Regions from separate parts of the Homo sapiens genome. Here region 1 is linked to region 2. The links come from fine-mapping of genetic effects on gene expression. A gene starts in region 2. The other region holds a variant in brackets. All regions are shown on one strand. Distances are from middle to middle. Region 1 overlaps ST3GAL1 (ST3 beta-galactoside alpha-2,3-sialyltransferase 1). Region 2 holds the start of ST3GAL1 (ST3 beta-galactoside alpha-2,3-sialyltransferase 1).

Region 1 (13,600 bases), 80 kb after region 2:
ACGTGAATGCAGTGAGTGAGCAAGCCATATGGATTCTGGGGTAGGAACAGTTTTGGTAGAGGGAACAGCAGGTGCAAAGGCCCTGGGGCAGGGAGTGTGCTTGGTGTAACATCCCGCTCTTTGAGTTTGATTCTCTGGGTGTTTGCTCCCATACCCCACTACCATCACAGTGGCTGCTCACCTCTAGTATCCCTTCCTTAGTTACCTCCAAGTGTCTGCAGGAATGTGGCAGTGGGGTGGGGGTTGTGTAGCAAGAAAAATCCGCTGGGCATGGTGGTTCATGCCTGTAATCCTAGCACATTGGGAGGCCGAGGCAGGCGGATCACCTGAGGTCCGGAGTTCAAGACCAGCCTGGCCAACATGGTGAAACCCTATCTCTACTAAAAATACAAAAATTAGCCAGGCATGGTGGCGGGCTCCTGTAATCCCAGCTACTCGGGAGGCTGAGGCAGGAGAATTGCTTGAACCCAGGAGGCACGGAGGTTGCAGTTAGCCGAGATTGCGCCCGTGCACTCCAGCCTGGGCAAAAGAGCGAGACTCCGTCTCACAAAAAAAAAAAAAAAAAAAAAAAAAAAAAATTCCAACAAAATTGCATGGGAGAGAAGAAAGGTGTATCTCTAATAGGAAACTACTTGTCTTAGTCCTTAATCCTCTTTGCACAATTTCTGTGTTTGGTGAAGTTTGCAATGGTTTTGTCTTCTTGCTTTGCATGTGTTCTCAAAATGCCTTCTTTAACTAAGGCTGTGAGTTCACAGCACACTGCAGTCCACTGTGTCAGGCCCGTCTTTCCAGGCAGGGCAGGAATCCGGATTCAAAAACCACAGAAATAGCAGAAGAAACAGTTTTGGCAACTACACTGCTGACCTTGTGCTGAGCTCAGGGAGGGAGGTGCAGCAGGCAGACAGGGCCCAGGTAGGGGTGCAGTGGCTGACAGACCTCTGTCTTGGCACAGCCATTAGGCTCAGGCCCCTGTGTGCGGGCTCAGGTCCCTCCTTCATCACAGGGTGGTATTGGCACCAGCCTGGGGGAGCAGTTCATGGGGCTGGGTGTGCTGGAAGAGACGTGCTGAGAAGTTAGGGACCCCAGGTTCTCTCTGACTTTGTTTTCTGTTTTTATTTTGCTCACATAGATTTGTGAGTTGTTAAAAAAGAAGGGCTCCTGGGGCCAAGAACTCGGAAGAGGGGTGGTATTTGGGAAAAACAGCCCCATCCCCCTTGGGTGCCGTGGCCTGGACAATCCCAGAGCATCAGCATACCTGAGTTCAGGATTGAGCCCATTATGGCCGAGAGAGGCCCTGGTCCCCGTCTCAGGAAAGTTGCTCCGAGGCTCCAGGCGCTCTAGGAACCAGAACCCTGGGCTCCACAGCAGGGCCAGGTGTCTCCTCAGGTGCTGTGGTCTCATCTTAGTGCCACCTCAGCCAGTGTACAACCTTGGGCAAGTCACGCCCCCTCCTGGAGACTCTGAAAATGGAACAGAAAGGTGTGGTCATCTGTGTGTTCCTCTGTGATCTGGAAATGCTACAACCTTTGCTTCTAAGGCAGGTAGTAGCCAGGCATGGGGACGGGGCTTCTGTCAGCTCCCCTTTGATTTTGTAGACCTCTGGCTCTTAGCAAAGAGATGTCCTAGGAAGGAAGGGCAGTACCTTGGTGATCCTGTCTTGCACATATAGACTGGAGCTTCAGCCCATTCTCACCTCTCCTTCACCTGAGACCTGTGGCTGCAGAACCAGAAACTCATTTCCAGAAGCAGCAGAATGTCTCTCTTTCCGCAGGGCTCAGAAGTATGTATTAAGCCTTCCATTAACTGCATCTTACTCAGCTGGAAAAATAATACTCAGGATGCAATTTTATCTGATTTCTGGCCTGTAAGCTCCTGAAGGGTTCTCTTAAGAAAGGCTCAAAAAACTCCTGCGCTGTGTGACTCGGAGCCCAGCCCTGTAGCCTCCCTCCAAGGAGCAGGCAGCTCAGTGGTTGACCAGCAAGCCCATCATCATTCAGCACTACTGGGTTATCCATCTGTCCGTCTGTCAATTAAACAAGTGCTTATGAGGGCCTGGGGCCAGGGGCACATACCGAGATTACTAAGACTAAATAAGACACAGCGTGTGCCCTCCACAGCAGTTCAGGCGCAACCTGACCACTTTCTCTATTTGGTTAAACTCCAGAAAGTTCTTGACTTTATTATTCGCAGTTCAAAAGCAGCATGAGCTTTTGTGTCTGCTCCCCTTCACCCACTAAGTGTCATGACGAGCAGGCAGAACGCCCATATAGATGCCACACATGCTATGGGTTACGATATAGGACAGGAACACCGAGCTTGGGGTATCCACCATCTTGTGGCAGACAGCAAGCAAGCCAGCTTTTTGTCTCAGAGAGAAACATTACCTCATGTCTCAGGATTGGTTGCTGCAAACCCAACCCAGGTACAGAGCAGTCAGAGCCTTGCATTCTTTGTCTACCCAGCAAGATGTGTAGGAATGCAAGAAACTCATGGAGAAGTGTCTCCAAACAATGCATTAGCATTGCACATGTCTGGATTTGAATCCTACGTCTAACAATTTAAGTGCGAAATTAAGTGCGAAATTGGGTAAATTGCAATGGCTGAACTTCTCAGCCTCAGTTTCCTCTTCTATAAGATGGGGATAATGCCTACTTTCCAGGTGACTGTGAAAGAGAGTGTAGGGTCACTCGTCTGGGAACACAGTAGTGAACTAAGAAAGCCCTTGAGTTCAAGAAACTTAGTTGCACGGGGAATCCTTTCAGCTATGTATTAAGTATGCAATGCCAGTTAGTCATGTGTGTGGAAAAGAATAGAGGAGGCTGGGCACGGTGGCTCATGCCTGTAATCCCAGCACTTTGGGAGGCTGAGGCAGGCGGATCACCAGGTCAGGAGATGGAGACCATCCTGGCTAATATAGTGAAACCCCATCTCTACTAAAAACACAAAAAATTAGCTGGGCGTGGTGGCACACACCTGTAGTCCCAGCTACTCAGGAGGCTGAAGCAGGAAAATTGCTTGAACCCAGGAGGTGAAGGTTGCAGTGAGCCAAGGTCGTGCCACTGCACTCCAGCCTGGGTGACAGAGCGAGACTCTGTCTCAAAAAAAAAAAAAAAAAAAAAAAGAATAGAGGAAAAACGCAGAGGCCGATACACATCATGGTTCAGGGACAGTTGCTGCAAGGATTTGCCATGTGACCCAGCACCCTGAATTGAGTAAAGGAATGACCTTACTACCTGTGGGAAGAGCATTCTGGGCAGAGCAGATAGGCTGTGTGTAGGTCCTGTGCTTGGCCTGCTTGAGGGACAGCATGGAGGCTGAGCTGGAGTGAGCAAGGAAAAGTCGTGGAAAATGGAATCAGAGAGTAGGCAGGGACCAGTTCATGTAGGATCTTGCAGGCCTTGGTGAGAGCCTTGGATTGCATTGTGGGTGTGCAGAGAACCCACTGGAGGCTTCAGGTAGGTAGGGGCATAAGCAGAAAATAGCATGGAAGAGGCCAGGAGAGGCTGCAAGGTCTGGGATTTGCTTTTATCCTGCTGCTACTAACAAGTTAGCCTGTTAGTGTTTCATGGATCCTGGCAGAAGACATGAGATTCCTGGGTCAGGAGTGTTGTAAAGTGGGAAAGATCTCACTGCTTTTTGTGCACAAAGCCTGAGCTCAGAGGGAACTCTTCTGAGTTTGAAGGGGAATGATAACTCAGTCCATACTTTCAGAAGCTGAGCCTCAGTCAACAAATAGGAATGAGAATCTTGGAACAGATTCCAGGGCACAGTGTATCAGAAGGCTCTTATTCTCTCAGCCTGCATGTCTTACCTGCAAAATAGGGAGAACATTGCTTCCCAGGCATATTGTGGGGTCTTGTAAATAGAAATTGAATCTGAAGACCCTGTGCTTATTCTCTGCGTTAATAAGAAACAGCAAATTCTTCCTAATAATTTATCCTTCTAGGTTTTTGATTATCCCTTTTCTTCACTGAGAAGCTATTAATGTTTGCTTTGTAGCTCTAGTGCATAACACACACACACTCAGACATGCTTGCAAAATGTGCCTGCCAGCGTCTTCCTGGATAAAGGGTGGTGTTGGTCATTTAGGGGAGAAGGAGAGAGAAGAAGGTGAAAAGAGTCAGAACCCCAGAGAGGCAAGAGAAAATAGCTAGGGTGGCCTCTCTCTCTCTTTTTTTTTTTTTTTCCTGATACAGAGTCTTGCTCTGTCGCCCAGGCTGGAGTGCAGTGGCGTGATCTCAGCTCACTGCAACCTCCACCTCCCAGGTTCAAGTGATTCTCCTGCCTTAGCCTCCCGAGTAGCTGGGACTACAGGCACATGCCACCATGCCTGGCTAATTTTTTATATTTCTAGTGGAGACAGGATTTCGCCATATTGGCCAGGCCGGTCTCAAACTCCTGACCTTGTGGTCCACCTGCCTGGGTCTCCCAAAATGTTGGGATTACAGGCATGAGCCACCACGCCCAGTCAGGGTGGTTTTTCTTTAGATCATGTTTCTTCCTCCTGCCCCATTCTGTACATCTGAAGGGAGCTGAGGCTTATACACAGCATCCCCCACATGCAAACTCATGTGCACCCTCCACCCACCCCAGGATGCTCAGCCAGCTGGCCAAGCATTACAGCTGGAATTCAGATGGCGGTCTCTAGCCAGTGCTGGGCACATTCTGCCATCGCCGTCCCTAGACCTCCTGCCCTTCCAGTCTTCGTTTCTCTCCAAGACCCAAGCAGTACAGCCAGCCTTGGCAAGGCCCACCTCTTATCACTGCATTGTGGGAGGAGATAAAATGAGACTTGTGTGTTTTAAAGTTGAGCAGAACAAGATGTTTTTAAAATGCTGTGTTCCCTATGTGGGAGGCCTTCTAATGATCAGCTGGGGACAGTGCGTCCAGTCCTCCCACCCCTGGGAGGTCCCGGAAAGGACTGCAGTGTGGGATGGGAGGCACACTCCCAGTGTTGGATGCCTACCTGGTGGCCAGCTCAGACAGAGCTGGGACAGAGCTGTCTCTAGCACCTCTGGCCATGAGGGTGTTTGGCCATTCCCAGC[G/A]GTCATTCGGCGTAGCTCAGTTTATCTCTCCTGCCAGAGTCGCCTCCTTATTGGACGGAGGGTGAGGAGCACTCGTGATCACTTTGTGGGGAGAGTGGGCAGAGTAGGGCTGAGTGGAGGTGAACTCCCCCTGCCGCATGGACGCTCCCCGAGGTGGGGTATGGGCGCCATCCAGAGAGACCAGCTGAGGCCGAAAGGTAGATTCTTAGCATGAAGAGCTGGGCCTCTGGAGCCGGGCTGTTTGGATCACCTTTTATCTTATTTTTTTGAGACAGAGTTTTGCTCTGTCACCCAGGCTGGAGTGCAGTGGTGCGATCTCAGCTCACTACAACCTCCACCTCCCAGGTTCAAGCAATTCTCATGCCTCAGCCTCCCCAGTATCTGGGATTACAGGCACATGCCACTACGCCCAGATAATTTTTGTATTTTCAGTAAAGACAGGGTTTCACCATGTTGGCCAGGCTGGTCTCGGAAATCCTGACCTCAAGTGATCCACCTGCTGCAGCCTCCCAAAGTGCTAGGATTACAGGCTTGAGCCACCACGCCTGGCCCCATTTCTTCACTTTGAAAGAGAACATACCACCCCTTGGTAAAGCTGTTGAGGTCAAACAAGCAACCTAAGAGAAGTGCTGACTTGGAGCCTGGCACAGAGTTGGTGCACTTTAGGGACAGGACCCAGTGCTTTCTTCCCCAGCCATCTCCAGGACTCATGAGCTGGGGGTGCACTTGGGGAGACATCAATACTAGTATCTCAGTCTCTCCATGGTCCACGCCTCCTGACCCCCAGGGACAGGCTCTGGGAATGCCTCCTGGTCAGAACTGGCCTCTGTTCTCCCACCTGCTTGCTGGGCCTCTGCTGGTCCAAGCTGCCCAGTGTCCCCTCGTATCGTCCATCCCGAGCCTCACCAGGGCTGCCAGGCCTCAGCTGCTCTGAGCATGCCCTGACCCCGTGGTGCCGATCCTTGCCCATATGCTCCGGCCACCCATGTTTTCGCTCCTCCCACTGGACAGCTTGGCAGCCCCTGGTCAAGAGGGCAAGGTCTCCCTCCTTTCCTGACTGCTGGGCCCTTTCTGATGAGAGCTACTCTTCCTCTCCTCTGGGGCCCAGGTATGGGGGTGGGGCTGAGCCTGGGCCAGGGCAGTTTAATCCTGTGATCCAACTGGACACCGTGACACCCCTCCAACCTTCAGTGTGTAGGGATGGGATGGTTCATGCGAAATGCCTGCTGTCGCCTGACGCTCCCACCCATCCCGGAACCCTGGAGGGTGCTGCATGCCTCGCCATTGTAGTAGCTGGGTTTATAACGTGATCTTAATCCCCATTAGGGACACTGCTAGAGGCTGCCCCTCAGCTCCTTCAGGCACCTCCTGGATGCCCCTGAAAATCAGTAGCATTAAAATATTTCCGTGAAGTCACGGACTAGGGAGAAAGGGGCCTCTTTAAGCCACGTGTCAGACTGTGAATCTCGGCTCCAGAGCGGCCACACCTCCAGCCCTTCCTTTATGCTGAGGGTTTTAGAACCAGCGACAGATGCCTGAGGGCAGGTGTAAGGGGCATTAGGAGCTCTGAATTGTCTCTTCTTTATCAGCCTCCAGCACCACCCAAATGGGGGGAAATCCTTTCTTCTGGGACAGGTGTGAGCCTGGGTGCGCGCATAGTGCAACCCCTGGAATTCCCAGCCACGTTACACGCTTCTAATGTCATTTGGCTATCCTAGGACTCCAAATGTAGCACTCCTCGATCCACACACATAAGAAGATTTGTGGATTTAAATTCTTTTTGTGAGGCTATGAATATGAAAACATATTCGCCTCCTTCTCATGTGACCCTAATCCTGGTTAATCGTGTTTCTCTGGGGCACTTCTCCACACTGCCTACTCTGAGCCACTATTTGTGCTTCAGCAGAATCTTTTTTTTCCCCGACTTCCCCAGCAAAGGAACAAGCAGGAGGCACTAAGGTGCAAAGAGGAAGATTTGCAAGCACATCGAAGGGTTCTCCCAACCTGCTGGCACTGCTGGGCTGTGGGGCAAATGGGCAGGCGCCGATGCAGAAAGGAGCAGGGAAACAGGCTCCAAAGGAAACGGACTTCCCAAGTCATGCTCATGGAGACCGGGCCACTCTCTAGACTCCCACAGGGTGTCCTGTGCACCCCTCTCCAGTCCAGCCACGATGTGCCAGTTGCAATCACTACTGTCTGCTGCTCACAAGCCAGCCGGGCTCCCCTTTGCCTTCAGTCCCCAAGTCCACGTTCCTCAGGACTTCCACGATCCAGCTCCACCCACAGCAGCCCCTCTGAAGGGCGCCCTGTTTTCTGTAACATACCAGCGTCTCCATCATCACCACCATGTGCTTTTTTGGGCACAGGCCTGGTTTACCCTCCCCCTCTGCCCTCCTCCATCAGTGCTATGCCCCCTGTCTCCATGGCCACCTGCCTTACACAGCCTTCCCTCTCCCTTTGGTTGTCATTCACCTGCCACTTGTGGATCACTAAGGCCCTTGGCATCATGTCTTGGGAGGCACTGGTTCCTCCTGAGCAGATTTATGCGTGTGAACTGCCCTGGGCTAGATCCTGGAGCCGGCCTAGTGTGCGGCTTCGCTATCTAGCAGTGAAGATACGCATGCCGCCAGCTGTGTTCTTGAAGCATCGCAGGCATGCTTGGGTACCTGGGTGAGGTACGGCAGTGGAGCATGGAAGAGCAGGCTCAGGAATCGGCCCTCACCCCTTCCTAGCCATGTGACCTGGAGTAAGCCACTGATACCCAAGGGCCTCAGCATCCCCTTCTGTAAAATGGGATTATGGTGTCACCTCCCTCATAGGACCTGGAACTGCACTTTAGCTAGTCCCTAAAATACTGCGTAGTCTCTCAAAGCCCAACTTCCTTCTCTGCCCAAAGAGCAAATGCCTGCCCGAAGAGCCCCTGGGGACTTTCGCCAGGCATCCACACACAAGAAATGTATTAGCTATGGATGGGTCAGGCATGCACAGATAAGTTGGGGAGGGAGTGAGTTGGAGAGAAGGAGGGGCAGACCAGAGGCCACTAGATCTAGTTAGAGATATTCCATGGGCTTTTGTCTGCAGGCTTATCAAACAATGAGGATTCTTTGATATTTAAGCCCGGCAGGAGTCAGAGAACAACAGGAGAGGACCCAGCAGATCAAACTCCAAGAGGGGCCCAGGAGTGGGCGGTGGTCAAGCCACAGGCGCTGATTGGAGCAGCCATGGGCGGGCTAAGGGGACCTTGCCCTCTGGCTCTACTGGTGTTGACTACATTTCTATGGGAGGGACTGATGCTGTCATCAGGGAGCTTGGGGGACAGGCTTCTTGGAGTGTCCCCCTGGTGGGACCTGGAATGTGTTGAACTTGGCTGAGTGGTGCAAGGGATCCCCTGGTGCCATCCCTGCCAAAGACCCTATCAGTGTCATGAGCCTGAGGATGAAATCTCCCGATGGGTGAGTGCCCCAGCAGCAGTTGGAGCAGAGTTTGGGCAGATTCTAGCGAGAGCAGCTACCCAAGGTGGAGGGGAGGCCAGGGCTCAGGGCATCCAGCTGACCCACGTGCTTCTTGCAAATCCTCTGAGGTGGCCAGCGCCTCAGAGGGGTGTCCGGGGAGGGGCGGGAGGCATGGCTTTCTGTGGGGCACAGCTCCTGGGGCACTCATTGCTTAGACCACATTGTCAGCTGTGCCCCTTGGAGTTAGGTCTGCGGGGTCACCTGGACTGGTCATGGTGCTGGCAGGACACAAATGGTGCATTCAAAGTGGGCAGTGGAGGGGAGCTGAGTTGAAAGGTCATTCACAAGGTCATAGTGTGGTGTAGGAAACAGCAAGTGTGGTGCAGTCCCTGGGGCTGGAAATGGTGGGACTGTTTCCAACCCTAGGGCTGAAGGGACAAGAGGACATAGACTTACTGAGACCCCCAGGACACAGCTAATGTGTGGATGGGGTCATTTGACAGGAGCAAGGGACCATCAGCCCTTGGCTGTCCCACAGGGAGGGCGCCAAGGCAGTCACTGCCTGTCCCCAGTTCCCTCTCTCCCTCTGGCCTTCCTCCAGGGCTTCCTGTGGCTCCCAGGAGGTTGTCCAGACTTTAGGGGGGCCACCAGACCTTGCCTGGCCCCCCCTGTCTGCCAGTGCCGCTGCAGTCTTCCAATCCACTTGACTTTGTTTTCTTTCAGTTCGTTGGACTCACCTACTGTCCCCACAGGCCTTCATACCTGTAGCTTCCCCTGCCTGGGAGGCTCTCACACTCCCTGCCCAATCACCTGTCCACCCTGTGGACCCTCAGTCACTACCACTTCCCCCAGACATCAGCCAGTCCCTCTTACGCCCTCTGCTCGTGGCACTGAAGGCTGCCAGTCAGGGCTCTCCAGGGGAGCAGAGCCTATCCCATATTTGTGTATGCATATTAAGAGATTCAACTTTCGGAACTGGTTCAGGCAGTTGTGGAGGCTGCCAGGTTCAAAACCTGGTGGGCAGGCCAGAGGGCTGAAATCTCAGGCAGGACTTGACTTCTCTGTTACAATCTTAAGGCAGAATTTCTTCTTTTCCAGGGAACCTCAGTTTTTGCCCTTAAGGCCTTCAACCTATTGGATGAGGCCCACCTGCATTCATCTCCTTTACTTAAAGTTAACTGATTGGAGAGCTTAACCACATCTGCATGCTACCTTCCCTGAAATACCTAGACGAGTGTCTGACCAAACTACTGGACTCCATGGCCTAGCCAAGCTGGCTCATTACATTTATTTATTTACTTAGAGATAAGTCTCGCTCCCCCAGGCTGGAGTATGATCATAGCTCATTGCAGCCTTGAATTCCTGGACTCAAGTGATCCTCCTGCCTCAGCCTCCACATAGCTGGGATGACAGGGGCAAGCCACATGCCTGCTGATACATTAAATCTAACCATCACAGCTGGTCTTTTGTGTGATTCCTTAATAATCTCAGCCTCTGTCCCACCCTGTGATGTTGCTTTCAGTGAGCAAGGACGAAGATCATTCTACTTTCTCTCTCCTTTTTTTTTTTTTCGACAGAGTCTCGCTCTGTTGCCCAGGCTAGAATGCAGTGGTGCAATCTCGGCTCACTGCAACCTCTGCCTCCCGGGTTCAAGCAATTCTCCTGCCTCAGCCTCCTGAGTAGCTGGGACTACAGGCATCCGCCACCACACCCAGCTAATTTTTTTGTATTTTTATAGATAGGGTTTCACCATGTTGTCTGGGCTGGTCTTGAACTCCTTACCTCAAGTTATCCACCCTCCTTAGCCTCCCAAAGTGCTGGGATTACAGGCATGAGCCACCACACCCAGCCATTCTACTTTGTCTAACTTTTGTTTTGTTCAGCACTTGACAGCAACTGCTAGATGGCCGGAGCCCAGTGAGTAATTGTCAAATGAAAGAATGAAAGCAAGAGCGAGAATCCACAAAGGGGCTTGGCAGTGTCCAAGTCAGAGATGTTGCCAAGACAAAGTGAGATGCTGTATGTAAAGGGTCTGCATGTAGTAGGTGTGAAACTCACACATGCCATTTCTTCTTCATTTTCAACCCCACTAGCCATTATCCACACACACACATATGCAGTTCTGAATTTCTCAGAGGAATGATGATCCTGGGTAGGTGACATTTTCCTAATGTTAATGTTAATGTTAAATATTCTTTTGTGATGGTCAGGAATTGTTCTAAGCACTATATATATATATATATACCAATAGTATTGTTTCCAATATGTGTTAAATATTCAAGATTATTAGTAACATGATTGTACGGTGTGGTAGCTCATGCCTGTAATCCCAGCACTTTGGGAGGCCAAGGTGGGCAGATCACGAGGTCAGGAGTTCGAGACCAGCCTGGCCAACATAGTAAAACCCCGTCCCTACTAAAAATACAAAAATGAACCAGGCATGGTGCACATCTGTAGTCCCAGCTACTCGAGAGGCTGAGGCAGGAGAATCGCTTGAATCCGGGAGGCAGAAGTTATGGTGAGCCAAGATGACACCACTGCACTCCAGCCTGGGCAACAGAGCGAGACTCCGTCTCAATAAAAAAGAAGTAAGAAAGTGACTCTCAGGACTAACCAATAGTCATTAATTTGTTCAATTAGCCAAGTCTAGGTGAGCAGGGGCTGGGATCATTGTTGCATTTTACAGATGAGGAGCTGACTGGCCTCGGCTTCTGAAGTGGCCCAAGTCACGCTGTGCTCCGTGGCTGCTGTCCCTGGGGTTGGGGGTGGGTGTTCTCTCCTCTCCTGGGAGGCGCAGGGAGCCTCAGGGCAGCACAGTTGCTGGCTGGCTGGCTTCATTCGAGACTGATTTTTTTAATCGACATAAGGAGAGAAATGTCCACCCCAGTCCTGCCATTGACAGGGAGCTTGTCATCACCTGTTTACCTTGCAGTGGCCAGGACCTCCTCTCAGGCCTCACCTCACTGTGGCCCTGTTTCTCTTGGATGATGTTTTCTGGAGGGAAACGGGTCTGGCTCCCCTCACGGCTGATCCTTCCTGACCCAGGGGAGGAGAGCGGCGTTGAGTGGGTCCAGGCCTGGCTCGGCCATGAGAGCACAGCTGTCAGCTTCAGGGGTGACTCAGAGCGGGTGGAGCCCAGCTGGAAGGAGAAAACAAAACAAGGGAAGGGAGGGCTCACACTCGCCCCTGCCAGGCCCTGAGCTGCGCCACACACAAAGCCCACTCAGTGCTCACAGTGCCACCATGGAGTGGGGATAGGCTGGTTCCTCTTCCACAGCTCAGACAGCAAGGAGGCCCAGGGCAGGGGCCGACCTCAGCCTGGCACCATCCACTTCACACCAGTAGGTGTGAAGTTGGGATTCTGCATTGGCCGTAATCCTGACTTTACACCTACCGGCCGAGGGCCTTGGGTAGGTGGCTTGACCACTGTGGGCCTCTGTCCCAGCTCTGAAAGCTGGAGATGATACCCAGTACCTTCATCGGGAGCTTGTTGTGGGCCCAGCCAATGTGCACCGGTATTGTGCTTAGAACACAGTATAGAAAAGACAAAGGTGATGGTAGGTGTCCTCAGTGTTGACACATTACTGCTCTGTGCAGTCACCTCAAGTAGGGATGGTTTTTAACCCCCGCTTTATGGATGAGGAACTTGAGGCTCAGCAGCCCATGTAACTTCCTGGGGGTCACCGCAAACAGCCCCCCACCCCTTGTGGCAGCAGCTAAACCAACTCCCGACCTTCTATCCCCCCCAAAGCTCCACCCTCTCTTTTCAGTTGCAGCCCATGACACCTCCTAAGATCCTGCCCCTGGGAATGGGAAGAACACCTACTCCGGGGTAGCCACCCTGTAGAATACAGCAGGTTTTTTCTAAGGAGTCAAGCGGGTCTTGGGACTTGGGCATCTGGTTTTCTTTAGCCCTGGTGCACTTTTCCTGTGTATCCTTGGAAAAGTCACTTCCCGTTTCTGAGCTCAGCTTCCACATCTGTGGACTGAAGTGAGGCAGCAGCTTGAAGCGTGAGGATTTGATTCGGGGATCCAGGTGCTTATGAAGTTCTTGGAAGGGCAGTGAGAATGGGGGACCTCCAGGGTTTGGGCTGCAATGCTTCAGGTTGAGGCCCACAGGCCACGAAGCTTCAGGAAGTCAGGGCAGAATCTGCAGCTGCCCCGCTGCCTGGAGGTAGAAGAAGGCAGGTTCTGGAGTCCAGATTCTGGGGCAGCTACACAGCAGCTTCTACCACTGCCAGAGGAAGGAAGGCTCTTGCCTCGCCCACCTGCCCGTCCCAGCTATCACTGGTCAGATCTCAACTACTTCCAAAGCGCTATGGACAGGGATGCTGGGAAATGTAGTTCCCAGGCTTCCAGCCCCTGCAGTTAGGGGAAGCACACAGCGAGTGGGAACAAACTCTCACTCCTGTAGACAGTGGCCAGCATAGGAACCCCTGCTGGCAGCAAGAAACAGGGTGCCCTGAGAACCCTCGAATGCAGGCAGGATTGATGCAACTCTCAATATGGGATTTGAGCCATGTGGATTGCAGATACCACTCTAGCTTCTAGCCTTATTCGTTGATCATAGCTACAAGTTTGCTGAGTTCTTAAATGTTTCTGAACAGTCTCCCATCACAATTCCCAGTGCGTGATACCCAGGGAGCAGGGAGGGTTAAGGACATCAGCAAAGAGAAGGCCTCATCACCCAGGGTCAGCGGTATCAGGCCAGGAGTACCCCTTAGCTTCAGGGGGATGGACAGGTGGCAGGAATCCTGGGGCGGGGTGGGCTTTTTAAAGCCCAGCAAGGCTTCCAACCAGGTGCCTCTAGCTCTGACTCACTTGGCCCAGGTTTCTTATTAGGCTGATTCTCCAAATGAGGGATTAAAGTGGAGGTCAGACACACTCCCTTGTAATAACACAGGGGCACAAGGGACTGCGCTGGGAGAGTTCCATGTGGAAGTTCCACACACTCAGCTTCCAGAGACAGCATCTTCTTCCTGGGGACCCATGCCGAGCACAGAGTGTGTAGGAAAGGAGGGAAGGAAGGAGGGAGGAAAGAAACGTTTAGACATTGATCCCAAAGATACAAAAGACCTGGTCCAAGTTGGCTCTGCCATCTCC
Region 2 (14,059 bases):
GCGACATAATCCAAGCCTAAACAAGGTTCTTGATGCTGTTCAGAATTTCATCAGAGTCTTCTCAGTGTCTTCCTCCACTGCAGTATGGGACTGGGCAAAAGTCCTCCCTTCTCAGGTAGTAGAACTTAAAAGCTGCTATAACTCCTTGATCCATTGTGTGGATCAAAGAGGTGGTGCCTGGAGGAAGAAATATCACTTTGATATTAGGAATGAAGATCACCCGTAAAAAAGAGGACATGTGGGAGCATTATCAACAATAAGTAAAATCTTGAAAGGTGGATCATTCTCCAAACAGTGCTTTTCCTTTCAGTGGTACAGCATTGCAGGAGAGCATCCTGGAAAAGAAGCTGCATCTGTTATGACTTCTCACTACTCCTGTAGCCCACTGGCAGTATGTGCTCAGTGCTGTGCTTGAAGACCCTCGGGTTCTCACTGGGCCAGATCACGAAGGATTTCAACTAGTAGCCTGTACCATTTCCCTCAAGCAAGACTGTTACCCTGTCCATCAAAGCCTTGAAACCTGACATTGACTTGGCTTCCTTATAGATAAAAGTCATTCCAGGCATCCATTTCCAGAATAAGGAGATTTCATCCATATTGAAGATTTGCTCCGGCAAGTAAATTTCCTCCACAGTCAGCTTATCTACAGTTTCCAAAAATTCTTCAGCTGCCTTCACATCAGCACTCACAGACTTACCACTCACTTTCATATTACATAATAAAGAACGATTCCTGAGTCCTTTAAACCACGCAGAGCTAGCAGTAAATTCAACATCCTAGTCAAATCCAGCCTTTTCTTTCAGCATCACAAACTTTCTGTTTTGGCTGGGATCATCGTGGGGCTGGGTGGAATACATGTGTGTGTCAGTCTAGTCTTCAATCCGGGTCATAAGAAATTTCTCTGTATCTGGTATAGACCCTTCTTAAATTGTTGATAGTCTCATTGCCTCCAATGATGCAGATAGTTTCAACTTCTGTCACTTTGTTCTTCTTCCCCAAGATTGTAGCTATGATCGAATGCGACCTACCTGCCTGGGGAGCAATAACCATCACCAATTTTCCACCTCCGTGGTCTTTAATCACTTTTAATTTCATTTCCAGCTCAATCACTGATATGGTTTGGTTGTGTCCCCACCCAAATCTCATCTTGACTTGTAGTTCCCATAATCCCCATGTGTCGTGGGAAGGACCAGGTGGAGATAATTGAATCATGGGGGCAGTTTCCTCCATCCTATTCTCATGATAGTGAGTTCTCACAAGATCTGATGGTTTTATAAGGGGCTTCTCCCTTCACTGGGCACTCATTCTTCTCTCTCCTGCTGCCTTGTTTTTTTTTTTTTGTTTTTTTTTTTTGTTTTTTTTTTTTGTTTTTTGTTTTTTTGAGATGGAGTCTCACTCTGTCACCCAGGTTGGAGTGCAGTGGCGCGATCTCGGCTCACTGCAAGCTCCGCCTCCCGGGTTCACACCATTCTCCTGCCTCAGCCTCCCGAATAGCTGGGACTACAGGCGCCTGCCACTGCGCCCAGCTAATTTTTTGTATTTTTTAGTAGAGACGGGGTTTCACCGTGTTAGCCCGGATGGTCTCGATCTCCTGACCTCCTGATCCACCCGCCTCGGCCTCCCAAAGTGCTGGGATTATAGGTGTGAGCCACCGCGCCCGGCCCTGCTGCCTTGTTAAGAAGGATGTGTTTACTTCCCCTTTGGTGGTGACTGTATGTTTCCTGAGGCCTCCCAAGCCATGCTGAACTGTGAGTCCATTAAACCTCTTTCCTTTGTAAACTACCCAGTCTCAGGCATGTCTTTCTTAGCAGTGTGATCATGGACTAATACAATCACTCAATGTGGCTTCTCTTTGGCAACATTAGCCATGGATTCTGTACGCTTAGGGACCGTGAGGAACAAAACAGCATGAGATTAAATCAAGCACAAGAGAAAATGATGCAATCGAAAAAAATGAGATGAATGAGGCTACTGCCGGTATGACACAGAATACTGTTTTACAGTAAACTCTTGGTTTTATAAGCAGAAGAAGCACACTCTAAAATGATTTAAAGTATAGTACAGTAAATATATAAGCCTGTTACATAGCTGTTTATTATCATTATCAAGTATTATATACTGTACATATTGTATGTGCCATACTGGTAGTGCAGTAAGTTTGTTTATACCAGCATCGCCACAAACACATGAGTAATGCACGGAGTTGATGTTATGCCAGCTACACCACTAGGTGACAGGAATTTATCAGTGTCATCAGAGGGGACCACTCTCATATACGCATTCCTTTTTTGACCAAAACGTCATTACTCAGTGAACGACTGTACATGTGAGAAGTGTGGCTGGGTTCTGCCAAATAGTTTACTAACTCAAATGCCTGCCAAGATTCTCAGAGTCAGGACCATGTCTCCTACACTCCCTCTAATGCATCATCTCCTGGAGGACTGTCCTTCTGCACAGTCATTCATGGGATGAGCTCAGGCTGCCTGGGCAGTCCATCCAGTATTGGATTGGTGATTCATGACTCTGTAGATGAGGCCTGTCAGTCAGATTCCTCTCCTGGAAAAACTAAAACACCTGGTGGAACCACAGTGGGAAGTGAAGCTGAAAAGATTATTTCCACAATTGCCAGGATGCAGAAAGGCTGAGGCCATAAACATGCAGAAAACTTTAGAACAGACCCCAGGATTTAACAGAGAAAGCCTGTGGGCAGAGAGAGAACAGAGCGGAGAGGGGGAGGGGGGGCAGCGGTGGGGGTCGGGAGGGAGACAGAAACACAGAGATGGGCTCTCTCTCCTTGCAGCTTGTTTTCAGCTTCAGTCTGCACATCTCTACATTAAAACTCTTTTTTCTAAAGAAACTTGAGTGAGTTCCTCACAGTCCCAAGAGCCCTAAGGAAAACACTGTCTAAAACACAAAACACCATGTGCTGTGCCCAGCACCTCTGAACTCATCTCTGACAAGTGGTGCAGCCCTTTTCTTTTCTGCACAATCACCCAAATGGGACCAGAACCCATTAGGATCTTTCCACTCTGCTGTGCCAAGAAACGGGGGTAGGGAAAGGATGAAATCAATTTCCTTAACCATCATTACTGAGAGCTTTGCTGGTGCTCCAAAAGGTAGGAGGTGGCAGCATGCAGTAAATCAATGTCAGCGCTCCCTGGAGACCCACTGTGAAGACACTCCCAGTAATGACTATGATCCTTGTTCTCTGGCAGGATGTGATGGGACATACACTCAGGGTGACAAAGAGGAATGCATGCACACACTTCTGACACACAGCCCCTGGCAAGGGTCCTAAAAGGGGGTGTTAAGAGAGCTACTTGCATGGAATGTCAAAACTCTGGAAAAAAAGGGAGAGGGAGAGGCTGTCCCTGTTACCTGGGAAGAAACTTAACAGAAAGAAAGTGGGGCTTTCAGAAAAGGCCTTGCCCAGGTTAACCCTTCAGAGATGAACTAAAGATGCATCTGATGTACAATGTTTTATTCAAATAAGGTGGTGATTTATGTGTGTTTCACCACAATGTCAATTAATAAGGAATTTCCATCTCACTATGGAGTCATCCAGGGGAACTTCCAAGACATGGTCCTGAAGCCTCCCTCCAACCCTGAGAATCTTGGTGGGATTTGCGTTAGCAGAACTGTTTGGCAGAACCCATACAATCTACACTATTCACATATATAGTCATGCATTGGATAACATTTTGGTCAATGATGGACCACATGCATGTAAGACAGTGGTCTCACAATATATTAATGTAGCTGAAAAACTCCTGTGCCTAGTGATCAGAACATCAACTCAATGCATTACTCACATGTTTGTGGTGATGCTGGTATAAACAAAACTACTGCACTGCCAGTATTGCACGTGGAATACATACAGTAAGAACTCAGCTAAAACTGAGCTGCTTTTGGTTCTTGGCTGCAAAGTGCAACAGCTGGATGACCTGGGGCTCCTTACTTGCCAAATCTGATCCTCTTTCCACAGAATCTACTAGGATATAGTAGCATAGTCTTATATGAGTATAGCATTTTCTATTTTTCGAATATGTTCCCATACATTATTTGATCCATACAATAAACAACACTTTTGTTATTTCATCCAAAAACTCTTTATTGGCCCAGACGATATTCCCAGCCAAAGCTAAAAGTCTGGTGCATGTTAGAAGCTCTTCTTTGCTGGAAGACGCTGCTGGTGGAGGGGACAGTAGCCGATGTAAGCAGAACTCTCTGCCCCCCTCCTCCCATGCACACAAGCAATCTGGAGATGCAGTGAACACCTTGACCTGAGTTTCAGAAAGAGGAAAGCCCACAGGATGTGTCCAGGCAGACAAAAGGGCTCACCCCTTCTCTAGAATTCTATCAAAAACCAAGGGCGTCAGGCAAGAGGTCTCAGAGCAGGTCCCGAAGTACCTAAAAGGCTATTCATCTTTTCCTTCCCTTTCTAGTAGTTATTTTTCTCATTCTCTCTCCTCCCCCTTTTAAAAGCTGGTTTTTCTTCTACTTTTCTCATCTCTGAATATTTCTCCTTTTCTCTCCCAAGTCCCTGAAGTCTTCCCCAACACCCTAGCCCCCATCTTCTAGCACAGGTCATCTTCCTGCTGTGGGCAGGGACCTGACACTGGAGAAACCCACCATCTACACAGCTGACTTACTACATGTCAAAGACAGTTCTAAAGGTTCTATGTGTACGAATTCACTAACTCATCACAACAGCTTTATCAGACAGACACTTCTTAGGTCGGTTCTCACAGATGAGGACACCGAGGCACAGAGTCACCTAGGCTGGGAGGTTCAGTCACTAGCCCAAGCTCACACATCCGTTGAGTGGCAGTGCAGGATTTGAACCAAGAAGTCCGGCCATGCGGGCCCTGGCCTGAATCCCTGTACTACAGCAGCCGTCTGATGAAACAAAGGCTGGGGGACTCTCCCCTTCCACTGCAAAAGGTTGATCTCTCTCCAGCTGGAGCAAGGGGCGCTGGAAGGATGCAATGACCCCAAAGGCAAACTGTGCCTCTTTCCTCTAACATTCCTCCGAAAAGTTGCGAAAGAGGTAGTCTCAGTAAGGGGTTAAGAACCGTAAAACCAGATTTACATGACTTGTGTACTGCATTTAGCATCAAAGCGCTGCACTCTGCCTTTCAGCAAAAGAAGTCTCCACCGCCCCCGCTTCCCTGTAAAAGAGGGAGGGCTGAATAACTGCAAGCCTAATCCGCAAACCCCAAGCTCCAGCCGCAGCCTCCGCATCTGGAAGGAAAAAGCGGCGGCAGGCGAGCCAGGGCAAGGGCTGGGCCAGGGCCGGGGCCGGGACCAGGGCCGGCCGCAGTGCCCGGCTCTGTGGCTCTGAACGCGGTTCTGGCCGCAAGAGTCGTCCAGCCCACGCTCCTCCCTTCCCCCTCCCTAAATCCCACCTCGAGTCCCGCGCCCTTAGAGGAAGTGGGTGGCTCTGCCCGGTCGCCAGCAGGGGATCGGCCCCTTCTCCCCACCGTGCCCCCGACTCGAGTTCTTCTGGGCACTGCCATCCTCTCGGTGCGTGCCCGTCTTCCTGCTGAAACGGACCCCAGTGGCTCCCGGGCCTCCCGGGCGCTCTTCCTTAGCCCCGCCAGCTTGAGGGCCGCGTCCAGAGAGCGGGGAGCTCCTCTCGGGGCGCCGATCAGGTCCCCGCGCCGCAGCCGCCGCCTCCGGCGTCTCCCAGGCTCGGCCTCTGCCGAGCCCGCTGCGGTCCACGTGGCTTGGCAGAGCTAAATTCGGCTTGCAGGAAGCCCGGAGCCAAGGGAAAGCCGAGCCAAGTTGGGGTGGGCGGGGCCGAACGGAGGCGCAGAGTCGGGAGGGGCGGGCACTGGGCGGAGGAAGGGGAGGGCCGCGCGCAGGGGAGGCGGTGGCTGGGCTCTGGCGCGCCCTGGCACCCGGCCCCGGCCGGCCAGGGAAGGCGGCCCCTCCTCGGTCGCCCCGCCTTTCACTCCCGTTACACCCGGGGGAAGGTGTTCCCGAGCCCTCTCCCACCCTCATCCCGCCTCCTCGCTTCCTCGGCTCCAGCCTCCGCCGGCGGAGCCCACTATGCCAGACAGTTTCGACACTTTGCAAAGACAAAGAGCCCTAGACCGGAGGGAGGAGGAGGAGGAAGAAGAGCGGAGAGAGAAGGAAGAGGCGATGTGAGCTGGGAAGGGGGCAAGTGTCCGGGACACCCACACCCCTGTATTCTCCTCCGAACCCCTTCATGCCCAAATCCCGGAAACTCCAGCGTGTCTCCAGCCGTGGTGAGTGCGCGCGCGGAGGCGAACCCTGCTCGGGGTGCGCGGGGGCTGCGTCCGCCTGAGTTGGGGCTCGGGCAGTTTCCTGTGGATTCTCGGAGTGGAAGGTTGATTGTCTGGACCCGGGAACTGAAGGGGTGGGGAGGGGACTAGGAGGGTGTGACAGTGGAGCTGGGACTGAAGACCCCGGGATTCTAGTGGAAGACATTCGAAGGGAGACCCCTTCCTTGGCAGCGGCGACCACCCAGGGCTTTGGGAGAGGAAGAAGGTCGGGGTGGAGGTTCGGGCTTAGGGGTCTTCGGCCGACACTGGAGGAGCTGCCTGGAGCTCTGTGGGGAACCTACGCCAAGTCCCGGGCAGCGGTTCCCGAAAGCAGCCCCAGTGACATTGCACCCGGCGCCGGGCTGGGATCTCCTCCGCTGGGGCCGCCCGTGGGAGGAGACCTCGCTGGGTGGCCGGGCTCAGGCGCTCTCGAGCGGATTTGGGGTCACAGGCTGGGACACCGCGGAGGCCGCCAGTGTTCTGGACGAGCGGCCGTGGGACAGTATCCGGATCGAGTCCCCCAATCCGCTGCAAGCAGGCGCAGATCCGGGAGGTGGCTATCGGCCCCGGGGACGCCGTCAGAGCGCGCTGCTCCGGATCTGGGGGTGAAGTTGACACCCGGGACAAGAGAGCTGAACGCGGCGTGGCGGACAGTGGGGGACGCGGGTGGGCCAAGGAGAGCACGGCCGGAGTCGTGTTAGTGGCAACTCGAAACTCTGAATCCGCCCCAACCCCGTGAGGCGTCGCAGCTCCCAAGAAATAATCTGACAAAAGTTAGCAACTTGCCTGTGTCTCTCGTGTGTGTGACCTGCGTGGGGGCAGGGCCACCCCTTCTGGGAGCGCACGGGGACGGACAGCGGTGACCCTGGGGCGAGGCGCTCTGGTGAGGGTACAGTTAGTTTGGAATCGGGACGGTGGCGCAACTTTCCGCTCCTCCTTTCTCTGCGCGAGTGTTTAAGCGTGACCTTGCGGGAGGAAGCGCGGCTGAACTTGAGATGGGGGTTGAGCTTGCGCCCCGGCTTGGCACAGAGACGTCGGAGCGCGCATTAGCCTGGCCTTGCAGCCGGGTCTCCCAGGAAGCGTGTGGGGATCGTCTGGCTCTGCTCGTCAGCTGGAGCCCTGACTCGCTCCTCCCTCCTACGCTAGGGTCCTCGGCGGCCGTACCATGCGCGGGGCTCGGTGGTGTGTTGGGCGAGGGGACACGTGCGCACCCAGAAGCGCGCAAGGGGGTGGGGGTTGGGCAGGTCACTGCGTCTCGCGGGCTGGGCGAGTCCCGCAGAGGGAGTCAGCCGTGACCCTGAGGGCAGTGACTGGCTCGCCGCGTCCCTGCATCAGGCATTCGCCCGGCTTTCTCGTGATTGTTTCCGGGCACCCCTGGCCTCTCCCGACTTCTCCCCCTCGCGGGTCCCCAAGCCCCGCAAGTTTGCGACGAGCTGGTTCTCCAGGGAGACAGCGAGCGCCCACCCCCGCTCTGCGGCTGGGTGTGTGTGGTGAGAGGAAGAGACGGGAGGAGGAGGCGAGGCCGACTCGCCAACGAGGAAAACGGGGTGAGAGGGGAGCCGGGTTTTCCAATAGTCGCCAGGGCGCCTGGCACGTCGTAGGTGCTAACGCAGTGTTCATTGACAAGGCCCCAAGGTGGAAGGTGCTGGCAGGGGCCCGGACGCCCCCTTCTTCCCTTCCAGTCTCTAAAATGGAGTTCAAATGTATCGACCAAGCCCTTTAGGCTTCTAGACGTGCCTGGAGCACCTACTACGTGCGGGGGCTCTACTCCTGGCCTGTTCGTAGAAGCTGCGGGCGGAGCCTCCTGATTTTCTTTACCCCGCGCTGCCCAAGCGCCCAGAGGCTTCGAAAAGGCAAGGTGCACTGCCCCCTGCCGGCTGCTGTGGAAACTGCCGCTTGTCTCTGCGGTGGGGAAGGGGCGCCCAGTGCGGGGGTCCCTCAGTGCCTTCCCGCACCTCCCCTTCCTGCCCCAAACATTAGGACCCCTGCCGGCTGTTTTCTGAAATCCCATGGTTGGCTGAAATGACTGACTAGAGTTCACCACTCCGTGCCCCTCAGCCTCTGCCAATATCTGGGTACAGCGTGGGGCCTCTTCTAGTCTCCCGTCTCTCTGTCTCTGTCTCTCTTTGGTCGCCAGACTTAACCTCTCGGCGTCTCAGTTTCTATATCTGCAAAATGAGGCCAATAATACATTCTCCAAAATACGTTCTGCATAATTGCGAGTGGCGATAATACATATAATTAAGTGAATGTGTGTATGTATAGGTAGTTCATACTCTACATGTGTGTATGTGTATACCTTGACTTCAGGTCTAGGGAAAAAAGTTCCATCGTACACTTTTTGCTAAATAAAGAATGAATAGAGGGCTCCTTCTCCTCTTGCCTTTTCAAAATCCCACAAACCCTGAAGTTTGCTTTCCCTGCATTTTTCTGGGCCGGCATTTGCTGTTTAGAGTCTGATTGGACAAGGCCAGGACCTGGGCTTGAGCAGGGCCTTTGTTGCCTACCTCCCTGGCTGGGAGGCCACAGCACCCCACCCAGGGTGAGAGAGAAAAACAGGAAGCGTTGCTAGAAGTGATGGCAGAGGAGGGTTTCTTAGGGAGTGTGGAGTCTGTTCCTCGAAGCTCTGCAGCAGCAGGCGGAAACTGCCTTCTGAGCAGCCTTCTTGCTGATTGTAATCAGGGCTGTACTGCCCCCCTTCCCTGGTGGCGCTCACAGCATTGGCTGTCGCTGATCTGGAAGCCCTTCTTATGGGGATGAAGTCGTCTGTGAGCTTGACAGGAAGGAGTCCTTCTAGGTCCTGGGTCTTTGGGGGTGAGGTAGATCTCTGTCTCCCCTCCCCACCAAGCAGCCCCCGAGCCAGGACACCACCCAAAGGCAGGCAGTTGACATTACCCAAGGAAGGGCCCTCTCCCATGTGTGACTCTGAGGCTTCTGGTCAGGTAACCTTGCTTGAGTCAGTTCCTGTGTAGAAGGTTGCTGACTCAAAGGGTTTATATTTGGGTAGAGCTTTGGCCAGGGATCTAAACATTAACCCTCACTCTAGGCCCCTCCCACACCACCAAAAGCGACCAGGAAAGCAAAAAATAAAATCCACCAGCCATCTTGTAAAAGCTTTCCAGTGAGTTCTGCATGCCTGTGTGCATACACTCCACAGGCTGATGGAAGAGCTGGCCCGGTCACAAAGAATTCTAGAATAAGACTTAGATGCAGCTTCGTTCCGTTGTGTAGACTTTGTGGAAACTTCAGCATCCCTGCTGGCACACCTGAGGAGCTGAGAGCTCTCTTCTGCTCTAATTTGGTCACAGGAGCCCAGACCGGGGCCCTGTGAGAGCCTGCATTTGAGTCCCAGTGGCAGCGCTCAGTTACTTTGCAACTTGGCTCCCAAACTATTCCAGGCTCTGGGTCTCAGTTTCACTCTCAAAATAAGAGGCTTGGCTGGGCACAGTGGCTCAGGCCTGTAATCCCAGCACTTTGGGAGGCCGAGGTGGGTGGATCATTTGAGGTCAGGAGTTTGAGACCAGCTGGCCAATGTGGTGAAACCCTGCCTCTACTGAAAATACAAAAATTAGCCGGGCATAGTGGTGGGCTCCTGTAGTACCCAGCTACTCAGGAGGCTGAGGCAGGAGAATCACTTGGACCCGGGAGGTGGAGATTGCAGTGAGCTGAGATCGTGCCATGGCACTCCAGTCTCGGCGACAGAGTGAGACTGTCTCAAAAAAAAAAAAAAAAGAGAGCAAGGCTTTAGAGTTCTGCTGCCCGTCACTGAGGGTCCATTAAAAGCTTCTCTTTGTGAAGACAGCCACCACCTGATTTATGTTTGCTTCAGCCAGCATCATCCTCAAAACCCTCCCGGTATCACAGACAACCCTGGCTTGGGGCAGCTGGACTGTCTACTACCCCATGCCAAGGGCATCTCCCCTCTCAAAGAGTGGCCAGGACCATTCGGAGCCCACACCCGCTTGGCAAAGTCATTTTCTAGCAGTTCTCAACGCTAGATTTTGAAAGCAGTCCCAGAAGTTTCAGACTCTGAGGTCTGAAACCTGACAGAGCCAGGGTGCCATCTGTGGGGACTCCCAAATGGTACATATTGCAGAAGGAACCCCAGTGATCTCACCAGGGCCTGTTTTGCTTCCCATCCACAAGCTGAACATGACCTTAGAAATCACTTTGGTCAGCCCTTTCACTTTAATGTAAAAATATTGAGGCTCAGAGGGGAAGTCACTGGACTGTAAAATCTGGGGTTTTATTGTTTATTTGGTCTTGTTATTGGTGGTGGTTGGGTTGTTTTGATTTCAGTTGAGCCAACATTTACTGGGAACTTATTACCTTCCAGGAGCACCATGCAAAGTGCGGAGATGCAGAGAGGAAAGACTACTCGGTCCTTGTTCCTTGCTGTCCCAGAGGTCACAGTGCTGTGGGGAGGGGGACAAGGACATACCCTGTCAGGCTGCGTATATAAATACACAGGTGCTAAGCAAAATGGGAACGGAGAAGGGAAAGGTTCCCTCCACCTTGAGAGACCCACAGAAGGGTGTTCTAGAGATGGATGAGTCAGACTGCAAGAGAGCAAAGATATCTTCCTGAATACATTCAATATCAAAGCATCATGTGCCCTGTGTGTGCAAAATAATAATAATCATAATAATAAAGTAAAATAAAAGATTGGCTGTAAGCCTGTTCCACATGGTTCTGAAGAGGTAAGGGAATTGGGAATTTTAGAGGTTCAGTGCTTTGGCCCCATTTCCCTCCTTAGGTCCTGATCTCTGGTTTGTTTGTGTGAGAGGAATGGTTGCCTTGCAGCCAGCCTGCAAGTTCCTACACCATGAGAGCCTCCAAGCATTGGAATGCCCGTGTATAAAACAGAGAGTGGCTGCTTTGCATTTGCCTTTTTAAAAAAATAAAATAAAACTTAGTGCTTTATTTTTAATGCTCATCCGTATACTTTATCTCAGATTTTCATAGCTGATTTGGGAGGGTGGCATGGCAGGTGGCAGGTAGGAGAAAGCGCCCAGGTTTTCAGGGGGACGCTACTATCCAGGCCGGCTGAGTGAGCTGGAGCAAGTCCCTGCATTTCCGTGAGCCAGGTTTGAGGTGCATGTGGGTGATCACCCCCTGCAATGCGGGGGATGCAGGGCCCCCAGGAGGATTAAGGGAGAGGATTCTTGGGAGAGTTGTGCATGCGGGAGTCCCAGAGCCTCCTTGATTCCAGTTGCATTAAGTCTGTTTATAAGAGAAAGTGATCGCATTCCTCAAGACAGAGCCTACGGGAGACAGAGGAGTTGACTGAAGGCAGGAAGTTTTGGAAAACTCCTGGAAAAGCACTTGAAGTAGGAGGAGGCTGATTTTAAGGTAAAATGGTTTGTGAATGATCCGCCTGGAAGCAGTAAGGCCTAATGACTGTGTTGGGGGAGCATGCTCCTCTCATTCCTATGGGTTGTGTCAAACTTTTGGCTTCTTTGTCCCTAGGGCAGGACACAGCATTACTAGTTAGCCAGAACCCTGGCCTAAGAAGCCACCCAAAGCACTGTTACCAGGAGCAGAGACACACAGGGGAGGTGGGGGGCAGCATAAGATGGTCGGGGTGCCCAGCATCATAAGCCACCTGGAGGGAGCCCTTCCTATGTGGCCTGGCTGGCCAGCAGGGATGGGATTTGTGTCAAAGTTCAAGGCACCTGCAGTGGACGCTATTGTGGTTCCCACCTGGGACAACTGTTAGAGAGGGCTCTGGAGTTGAGGTGTTTTCTACAGAGTCAGGGGAATCCCTGCAGGGAAACCACTGGCCAAGGACACAGAACTCCTGGGCCCTGGCCCTGGCCCTGGCCCATCTGCTCCGGGCCGGGGACCTTGGGCACGTTGTTTAACCTCTTTGACCCTTCGTTTCCTCACCTGGGAGATGGTAGTATAAATTCCCACTCCCTCTGTTACAGGAGAGTTAGGAGGACCCCACAAAATGAAGCACAGGAACCTGCCTTATTGATAAGAATTTTAGTAGCATCTACTTTTTATAGTTTAATGTACACCCAGTAGTGCCAAGTATTTTGAACATCTTATCATTCTGGGGTTCAGCAGGAAGCATTGAATGGAGGGTCTGAATAAAGATGTGCTTCCAGAGATGGTGCCCACATTCAGAGAAGTCAGCAGGGGATGCTGTAGCACCTGGGCCCATTTACCACCCCCAGAAGAAGTGGCACGGTAGGGGAAGGGCTAGGGGAACCAGGAGAGCATCGCAATAGTTGCCAGAAGCCTCTGGAAGAGAGAGACCACAAGGCCCCCTCCTCAACTTGGCAGGAGAGGAGCCAGGCGGATCAACCCTGCAACCTTGCTCTCCTCTGTCCTGCCCTCTGCAACTCTGTGGCACCAAGAGCTGAGCCCACCCAGCAGCCAAAGGCAGGGAGCTCCCTGATGGAGCCCCCCAGGGCAGGACAAGGTGGAGGTGGATTAGGAGCAGGCCTGGAGGAGACACACACACACACACACACACACACACACACACACACACACAGGCACACAGAGCTGTTATCTCATTTGAATCTGCAACAGCTGGGGGTGGGGAGGAGTAGTCACAAGATTACCAGTTGGCAGGTAAGATGCCCAGGAACTGGAGGGTAACCCCCTTGCCTAAGGCCACACAGCTGGTGGGAGCCCACATTTTAACCCATTGTGTCTTATCAGCCCTAGTAAAGTAAGAAGATCCATTGTAAGACATTATGAAGACCTTCAATTGTTATCAGTAGCATCTTAATGAGAAGCAGAATAGTTTAAGTGTTAAGGTTTGCCTGGGTTTCAATTGGAGGTTTATTACTTAGTGATCAAATTACTGACCTTTTCTATGTCTCAGCTTCCTCTTCTATCATGAAGGCACACTTTGTACAGTTGATGTGAAAACTAAACAAGTTTATTCAGTAAAGGTCTCTCAACAAATGTTAGTTTTGATTCCTGAGAAGGTCAAGATTTAGACAGGGCGGTGTGGGTGTGAGTGGTACTTCAACATGGCCTTTTAACCTATTCAGCATTCAAATAATATGGTTTGAATATTTGTAGGTTAAAAGTTTCTTTCTTCCAGTTATTCTGACGATGTTTGTTTCATTTCTTCTGACTCTGTGTGTGTGTGTGTGTGTGTGTGTGTGTGTGTGTATTTTCTCTTTAAAACACATGAAAGTGCCAAAGGAGAGAATGACAAGAAATTTAAAGACCTAAATTGGCTTTATTGTGATTCTAGAATTGAGCAACACTTCGTTCCACAAAACAAACAGAATAGGTTTTCCAGTGAGCTGAGCAGAGGAGGTTGGCTTTATAAACAGGACTGAAGAAACCAGAAGCAACAAAGTGTGTACTCATTACATTTAGAGAGAACACTAGAAAAATAACTGATTAGTTAACATCCGGTTACTTTAGGCTGCCTTTTTTTGTGCTAAGGATTAAAGCCGAGAGAACTTCATGATCATACCAGTTGACAATTTAATCCTGCTTATTTGAGAAATTGACTCTCTCTTGATTTCTCAGGAAGTCAGATGACAACTTAGTTTTGTCGATGGCTGTTGTAAAACCTCGGTTCTTGTCTCCTTAGTTTAAAAGAAATTAAACAAGAGACACACAGCAAAGGAGATGCAGCATGGAGCGATTTGTTGCAAAAGAGGCAGGATATTCTGAAAGTGACGTGCAGAATAGACAGTACACTCTGAGACAGGATTCAGGGCGGGCTGCTCGTGAGGATGGGACAGCATTGACTTACTGGGGAGACTCCCTTGATGACAGCCTTACACGGT

The links. PIP is the estimated chance that this variant, and not a neighbour inherited with it, causes the effect.
Region 1: its variant is fine-mapped to the expression of ST3GAL1 in whole blood (TOPMed, PIP 0.99).

What each region holds. Positions count from the first base shown.
Region 1 is chr8:133,484,435-133,498,034 of GRCh38, reverse strand. All of the region lies in intron 3 of ST3GAL1 (ST3 beta-galactoside alpha-2,3-sialyltransferase 1), which reads left to right. Among named protein-coding and RNA genes, the nearest start is that of ST3GAL1-DT, 79 kb to the left of the region's middle. RefSeq lists enhancers at 708-927, 6,748-7,293, 8,771-9,554. The variant G/A (reference allele first, on the strand shown) is at 5,046.
Region 2 is chr8:133,563,888-133,577,946 of GRCh38, reverse strand. It overlaps ST3GAL1 (ST3 beta-galactoside alpha-2,3-sialyltransferase 1), which reads left to right and starts at 6,060. Exons shown (of 10, transcript NM_173344.3): 1 at 6,060-6,254. ST3GAL1-DT (ST3GAL1 divergent transcript) reads right to left here and starts at 7,375. Exons shown (of 2, transcript NR_186509.1): 1 at 7,077-7,375; 2 at 4,091-6,889. RefSeq lists silencers at 5,311-5,370, 5,561-6,050 and enhancers at 7,841-8,060, 7,420-8,273, 8,231-8,300.